2 linked regions of the Homo sapiens genome follow. The protein of the gene in region 1 purifies or fractionates together with the protein of each later gene. This does not show direct contact. Each region holds a gene or a part of one and is shown on either strand. Other genes may lie near its edges.

Region 1 (3,818 bases):
GCACCCTGGCACCGAGATCTTGGTTTCTAAATACCATGCACACCAGGCGTCTTTCATTTCATTTCCAAAGAACCAGGGCTCTTTAGAGAAAAAGCTGATTCTGGGGCTGGGGCTCGGGAAGAATGAGTCTGGAGCATATTGTTAATACCAGAAAGAAAGTACTTAAAGAAGGATGAGATTATGTCACCAGAACATAAGAGCCAGCCTGAAAGGGTTCCCACAGGACAAAGTTGGGACTGTGTAACCATAAAATAATAAGAGTACTGTATTATAAGCCCCTGAATAAGAACTTCTGAGCTCATACTGACATAAATAAGTAGGCAAGAAGGGTAAAGCTGTCTTAGTACAGAATGCCAACTAATAAACATAGAAGCAAAAGTAGAGTCATGGCGTGAGTTGGCTAAAGAAAAAAAAAACAGAGTCAGAAAATAAACAATAAAGGCTAAAAGAGTAGTTGCAAATTTAATGAGGAACCAGACATATTGATACAACGTCCTGTCCCTCCTGACATGACCAAGGACACATCCTTTCTGGGCTGCTTCTGACAAAAGTATACAATCCAAATCTAATAATGAGGATATGTCAGGAAAAAAAACCACAAGAACTCACCTATTTTTTAAAAAGTAACAAGATCAAGAAAGACAAAGTTCATCTGGTTAGATAGATGGTGGGAGAAAAAAAGAAGGGCAAAGGAAGGCAAAGGAGTAGACGGAAGGACATGAAGAAACATGACAACTAAATGCAACACAACACACAGTCCTGGATTGATTGGATTCTTGATTCAGAAAAAAAAAAAAAGCCACAGGTACATCAACAAAATAATTGACAGAATTTAAATTTGGTCTAAGGATTAGCTAATAGGCAATATCAATGTCAAATTTCCTGACTCAGATATTTATTCTGGGTTATATATAAGAACATTGTTGATCTCAGGAAACACACATTGAAATTTTATAGGGGAAGAGTATGAGGACTCAAAGTTACTCTCCAATGTTTCAGGGGAAAACAGAGGGAGAGAGAAAAAATGGCAAAGCAAGTGGGACAACAGGTAAGCAAGTGGTGAATAAGTGTGAAGAGTATACAGCCATTCCTTCTACTGTTCTTGCAACTTTTCTGTAGGTTTGATAAATCCAAGATAAAAGATTACCAAAACACACGCACATACACATTACTGTAATTATTCTCTATGAGGATACAGTAGCTCAGTGATTTTTCTTTTTCTTTTTTTTTTTTTTTGGAGACGCCCAGCTAATTTTTGTATTTTTAGTAAAGACAGGGTTTCACCATGTTGGCCAGGCTGGTCTTGAACTCCTGACCTCAGGTAATCCACCCACCTTGGCCTCCCAAAGTGCTGGGATTACAGGCCTGAGTCACCATGCACAGCCCATTATTTATCAAATGATTTTTTTTTTTTTTTTTTGAGACCCAGTCTTGCTCTGTCACCCAGGCTGCAGTGCAGTGGCGCGACCTTGGCTCACTGCAAGCTCCACCTCCCGGGTTCACGCCATTCTACTGCCTCAGCCTCCCAAGTAGCTGGGACTACAGGCGCCGGCCACCAGGCCTGGCTAATTTTTTCTATTTTTCAGTGGAGACGAGGTTTCACTGTGTTAGCCAGGATGGTCTCTATCTCCTGACCTCGTGATCTGCCCGCCTTGGCCTCCCAAAGTGCTGGGATTACAGGTGCGAGCCACCACGCCCAGCCACCTCAGCGATTGCTTGGTCACAAAATTACTAAGAACCAGGCCTTGAACCTGAATCCAGGCCTTCTGACAATAGATCTTTCCAGTGTCCCTGCCCTGTCACTTATCAATGAAGAAATCACCCCCTTAGGCCATATTGCTGAACAATGAACCAAGTGATTGAGAACTGTGGGGGGAAATCCTAAAGTTTTTAAAGCACTGGTAGTTACCTGTCATGACGACCTACTTAGCCATCTTGTTTGGACACAAAGGAACTGACACATACTTCAATCTGAAAGCTGTACTTCCAAATTGATGGGGCCCAAAGAAAGAGGGGTAAAAAGCAACATTTACATGAAACAAGGATGTTTTCTAGGAGCCCCATTCAATTTCCAAACTGGTAAGTGCTGCGTCTGATAGCAGGTACTCAGCCCAGCACCACCGCTCTACTGAATACTTCTTTCCTTTGCATCTCCTGTGTCTGTGCTTAACAGGGCTGATAATTATGCCAGGTGGATTCACCTAGGATGATCTATTTCAATTAAATTGTGACTGACCTTAATATAGTGAAGACATATAATAGAACCATTTAACTTACACGAATTCATCTACTTGTAAATGTAATATGCATGCAAGTATACATAATATAAGCATATGTACTTAAGTGATATGGCCAAATATTGCACTTCCTGCATAAGCCTAAGCCATGGAATGGGTGTGAGATGCACTGTTCTCTCAGGGATATCTTACTTTATGTGCTTCCCCTAATATGAGCATGTCCTTGCTGAGTATGACATAGCATTTAAAGAAATTAGAATAAAGATGCTAACTAAAACAGGTTTTTAGTTAAAAAGCAATAAAGGAGAATCCTCATCCAAAAATGGAAATGAATAGTAGGTGAGTGAGGAGTGGGAAGGACAGGAAAATAAGAGACAGGTGAATGGGAGCCATGGTTTCGACTCCAGGTGCAAGGGAGCCTAAGCGACAGGCTCTGCTTGAAGCTGCGAGCCTGGGGTGAAGCCTGGAACTGGAAACTTCTGCCCATTCCCTCTGCTAGGCCTCGGACTAAACCTAACAGAAACAGGCAAGACAAGGTGGGAAAGATGAGTACAGGGAACACAGAGGACTTTTAGGGCAGTGAAAATACTCTGCATGATACTATAATGGTGGAATACATGTCTTCATACGTTTGTCCAAACCCACAGATCATGCAACACCAAGAATGAACCCTAATGTAAACTATGGGTTTCAGGTGATGTGGATATGTCAGTGTAATGTGGGCTCACCGATGGTAACAGATGCACTGGTCTGGTGGGGGATGTTGATAGTAGGAGAAGCAATGCGTGTGTAGGGGCAGGGGATAGATGGGAAATCTCTCTACCTTCCTCTCACTTTTGCTGGGAAATTAAAGTTTCTCTTAAAAAATTAAGTCTCTTAAAAAATTCATTTGTTAAAAAACAATCAAAAACCGGGAAAATATTACAAATAAAATATCATTGCATAAAAGACTCAGGCAAAATGAGAGATCTATGACATTCACAGATGGGAGGATGAGAAATCCTAAGCTAACCTAGAAATTCAATGTCCAGGCTCCTTAGTTAGCCATTGGAGGCACTCTGGCCTGGTCCCTGCCAACATCCCTGGCCTTGCTTCTTCAAATGGCCCAACAGCCAGTGCTGCCATCTTCCCTGCCTCCAACCTTGTGCTCCTATAGCACCCCCTACAGCCTGCTCTCCACATTGCAAGCAGGATGGTCCTGCTGAAACAAGTCTGATCACATCACTGCCCAAACTGGCCAATGGCATCTCATCTCACTTGAGTAAAAGCCCAAGGCCTCAGCACAGGCCACCAGGCCATGTGGCCTGTCCTCTTCTCCCGTCACTCTCCCATCCCCCTTGCTCAAAGGAGTCAAGCCTGATCCTTCCTCATGGCCTCTGCACTCTACTCCTTCCATGCTGCTCCTCTCCCCAGAGCAGCAGATCTTACATCCTTCAGTGCTGACACCATCGAGTCCTCCCTGCCCATCCTGGATAAAGCAGCATTCCTCCCACCAGTCTCCATCCCCCTTACTCTGACCTATTTTGCTCAACAGCACTGACCACAATGTGAGCCAACACACTGTCTTCTCTGACAGAACAA
Region 2 (3,818 bases), about 110 Mb from region 1:
ACACAGCCAGTGAGTGACCAGTAAAGCCAGACTAGAACTTGGGCCTCTGGACACCTTATGCACCAGACTAGAACTCAGTCCTCTGGACTCCTTATGTGGTGCTCTTGCTGTCATGCCTGCTGTCCTGGCTTTCTCTCTGGCAAAGGAGAAGACCCCCAGTGGAGCCAGCCTGGTTGGGTACTTGAGGAATTCCAGTGGTTCTGCTGGCACCATGGTGACTTGTCCACATGACAAGTGGTGTGGGTGCCACAGACCAGACATGCAGGTTTGCTCTGAGGTGTGTAACTCATAAACAGCCCGCCAAGCTGGTCCATAACTCCTGTTTATTTGAATGTAAATTAGAAAATGACTGGAGTGTTGAAATCGTCTTGTGGGAAAAGCCCCAAACAAGTTGGCTGGTTGTGTGTGTGTGTGTGTGTGTGTTTTGTTTAAGAGACAAGGTCTTGCTTCATCGCCCAGACTGGCATGCAGTGGGGTGATCACAGCTCACTGCAGCCTCCAGCTCCTGGGCTCAAGTGATCCTCCTGCCTCAGCCTCATAAGTAGTTGGGATTATAGGCGTGTGCCACGGCGCTCAACTCTTGCTTTTTTTTTTTTTTTTTTTTTTTGAGACAGAGTCTTGCTCTATTGCCCAGGCTGGAGTGCAGTGGCACGATCTCGGCTCACTGCAACCTCTGCGTCCTGGGTTCAAGTGATTCTCCTGGCTCAGCCTCCCCAGTAGCTGGGATTACAGATGTGCACCACCATGCCCGGCTAATTTTTTGTATTTTCACTAGAGACAGGGTTTCACCATGCTGGCTAGGCTGGTCTTGAACTCCTGACCTCATGATCCACCCACGTCAGCCTCCCAAAGTGCTGGGATTACAGGCGTGAGCTACCGCGCCCAGCCTCAGCTCTGGCTTTTCCTTCATCTGGGACATCAGGCTAACTGGGAACCAGCCCCACCTGTACCCCTTGATCTGTGAGTTAGAAGCTCCCCCACTGCAACAAGCATCCTCTGAGATTTGGGACCACCTACCACAGCCTTACAATATTTTCTGCTTTTTTTTTTTTAAATTTAAAGTTAATGCTAATACCTGTTTATTTTTGGTTTTGTATAGAACAGGGGTGTACAATTTTTTGGATTCCCAGGGCCACACTGGAAGAATTGTCTTGGGCCACACATGAAATACACTAACGCTAATGATAGCTGAGGAGCTAAAAACCAAAACAAAACAAAACAAAACTCAAATCTCATAATGTTTTAAGAAAGTTTATGAATTTGTATTGGGCCACATTCAAAGCGGTCCTGGGCCACATGCAGCCTGCGGTCTGCGGGTTGGACAAGGTTGGTGAAGAATATCCCAAGAAAGACAAGAAACTGTATTAACCCTCCTAATATAGCAGGTGAGTTATCATTTTGATTGACTGTTGAGAGCTGGATTCTAGTGGAATGTGATTTAGATTGTGTGCCTGGGAGGGACCCTGAGAAGATGAAACAAATAATGTCTTGTTGGAGGAAGAAGCCAGAGAGACACTTTCTGCAATGGCTGTACAATTTTGAAACTGCTGGCAGACTTCGGAGATGCATTTGCAAGTAGTAAGTGAGGCTTTTTTAGCCTTCAGGAACACCTGCTGTGTGCTGGTGCCGTGCTGGTGGGTCCCACTCTTGATCCCACCTGGCCAGAGAACAATCTGGAAGGAGGGCTATGGAGGGCCCTATTGTGTTTTTCTGTCCATGTGTGTAACAGCCCATGAGTCGGCTGTTTTTGAGGCTCAGAGGGGAGAAGTCACTTTGAGTCTGATTCTCTTCCTCTGACATCCATGCCCTGAACACCGTGGACAGATGAGTGGAAGGAAACACGGAGACTGGCATCCATCTGAGCCAGCCTGAGCTTGAGAGGCCCCGAGGTGGCTTCTTTTTGGCAGCTCCGTTTCCCAACAGCTGTGTGGCAAAAGGCCCACTTCCTAAAGGTCTAGGGCCATCCATCCTACCTTTGGAAAGATGTGGTGAGTCCAGGCAGGAGCACCAAAATCAATGCCTGACTTGGTGAATGACTGCCAGGGCACAGAGCCAGCTGCATGGCTGCTTAAGTCTGACAATTGCTCCAGCAGCCTCCTTTATAATGTCCAAAGGCCAGAGTACATACAGACCAGTGGCACCCGCCCACCCGGTCCTGGGATGGTGGTGATTAGATCTTTGTGTTCAGAAAAATCTGGCCCTTGAGGTCAGAGCCTGAGGTTTGGCCTCTCTGCTGCCAGAAGGACGAGGATTGAGTAGGAGGGGAGAGACTACAGTTGCTTGCTAACTCATCTTGCCCCTCCTCTGCTGCACAGGGATGCTTGGAGGGACAGCCCTCCACTGTGAATCCCTTGGGGCAGAAGTCAGGCCCTCCCAGGACCCACCAATGGGCTTCTGCAGCATGGGCGCCCAGCCTATATCCACGTGAAAAGGAATGGGAGGAATTCATGACAAAGGGCTTTATAAAATATAACGTATGACCGTGATCATAACTAGCATCATCTCTATTTTGAGTGGCTCCCAGGATATGCCATTGAATTAGGCAGTAACTCATTTCTAATCCTCATGATGAACTTAGGAGGAATTTGGCACCATTTTCCAGAAGAGGAAACCAATGTGCAGGGAGGTGAAGCGATTTGATCAGGTCATGAAGGTAGGAAGTGGTCCACAGGACTTTACAGCAGGTCTAGCCCTGTAACAGGGGAGACCAACACCACATCAGGAAACAGGAAGACGTTGGAAGTCGTCTCTAGGGCAGAAATGTCCCTTGTAGGGGAGGAGGGGAAATGATAGGAAGTTCCCGGCTGGCATGACAATGTGATTATTTCAATGAGCTTCTTAGAATGGAAATATTGGGGCCGGGCGCAGTGGCTCATGCCTGTAATCCCAACACTTTGGGGGGCCGAAGCGGGTAGATCACGAGGTCAGGAGTTTGAGACCAGCCTGGCCAACATGGTAAAACCCTGTCTCTACTAAAAATACAAAAAAAAATTGGCCAGGTGTGGTGGCGCAATCCTGTAATCCCAGCTACTCTGAAGGCTGAGGCAGGAGAATCGCTTGACCCAGGAGGCGGAGGTTACAGTGAGTCGAGATCACGCCACTACTCCAGCCTGGGACAGAGCGAGAGTCCGTCTCAGAAAAAAAAAAAAAAAAAAAAAAGAATGGAAATGTTGGGTCCTAGTCTTAGGTTTCATTGTTTCAGTAAAAACCTGCCAGAGTGAATGTTAACTCCTTTTATTACGTACTTACAGTGGTACTTATATGGAGGCCTTTTTTGTGGTTCTTGCTAGAGTGTTAACTGTATCTGAGCTTTTCAAAGTCATTGCAGTGGATCAGCCCTCTCCAGGGTCTTCTAGAAGCCTCTGCTTTCCACCCTGGCAGTTAGGCAGTCGACTCACACTTCCCCTGTGTTCAGAAATGATTCATTTTCTGCCTTGCTGTTCCTCCAAGTTCCTTACTTCACTCCCTTCTGAGATCTCTGTCTTAATGGTCTGGAATACATTTGAAGTCATTATTTTATGATGGGGAGATTTCTGCTAATTTTACCCCTAACAATCAATCAATGAGTCAATAATTCTTTTTCTCCCTCCTCCCTTCCTTCCTCTCCTTCTGCTTTGATTTCTTAATCATTGGAATAATTGTTTTCTGGATTTCCTCTCTAAAGAAAAGCTTTGTCTGTTGGGAAAGGTGATGATGATATAATTTATAATAATAAGCATAAATGATAATACCTTCTTTTTATTTTATTTTATTTTATTTTATTTTATTTTTGAGACAGAGTCTTGCTCTGTCACCAAGGCTGGAGTGCAGTGGCATGA

What was found.
Region 2: the proteins of TIGAR (region 1) and GLTP fractionate together in Homo sapiens (co-fractionation; one large-scale study listed by BioGRID). This does not show direct contact.

Annotation. Positions count from the first base shown.
Region 1 is NC_000012.12:4,355,706-4,359,523, reverse strand, and holds part of TIGAR (fructose-2,6-bisphosphatase TIGAR), read right to left. Parts: 3' UTR 1-3,818.
Region 2 is NC_000012.12:109,870,423-109,874,240, reverse strand, and holds part of GLTP (glycolipid transfer protein), read left to right. Parts: intron 1-3,818. UniProt on the Homo sapiens protein: Accelerates the intermembrane transfer of various glycolipids. Catalyzes the transfer of various glycosphingolipids between membranes but does not catalyze the transfer of phospholipids. May be involved in the intracellular translocation of glucosylceramides.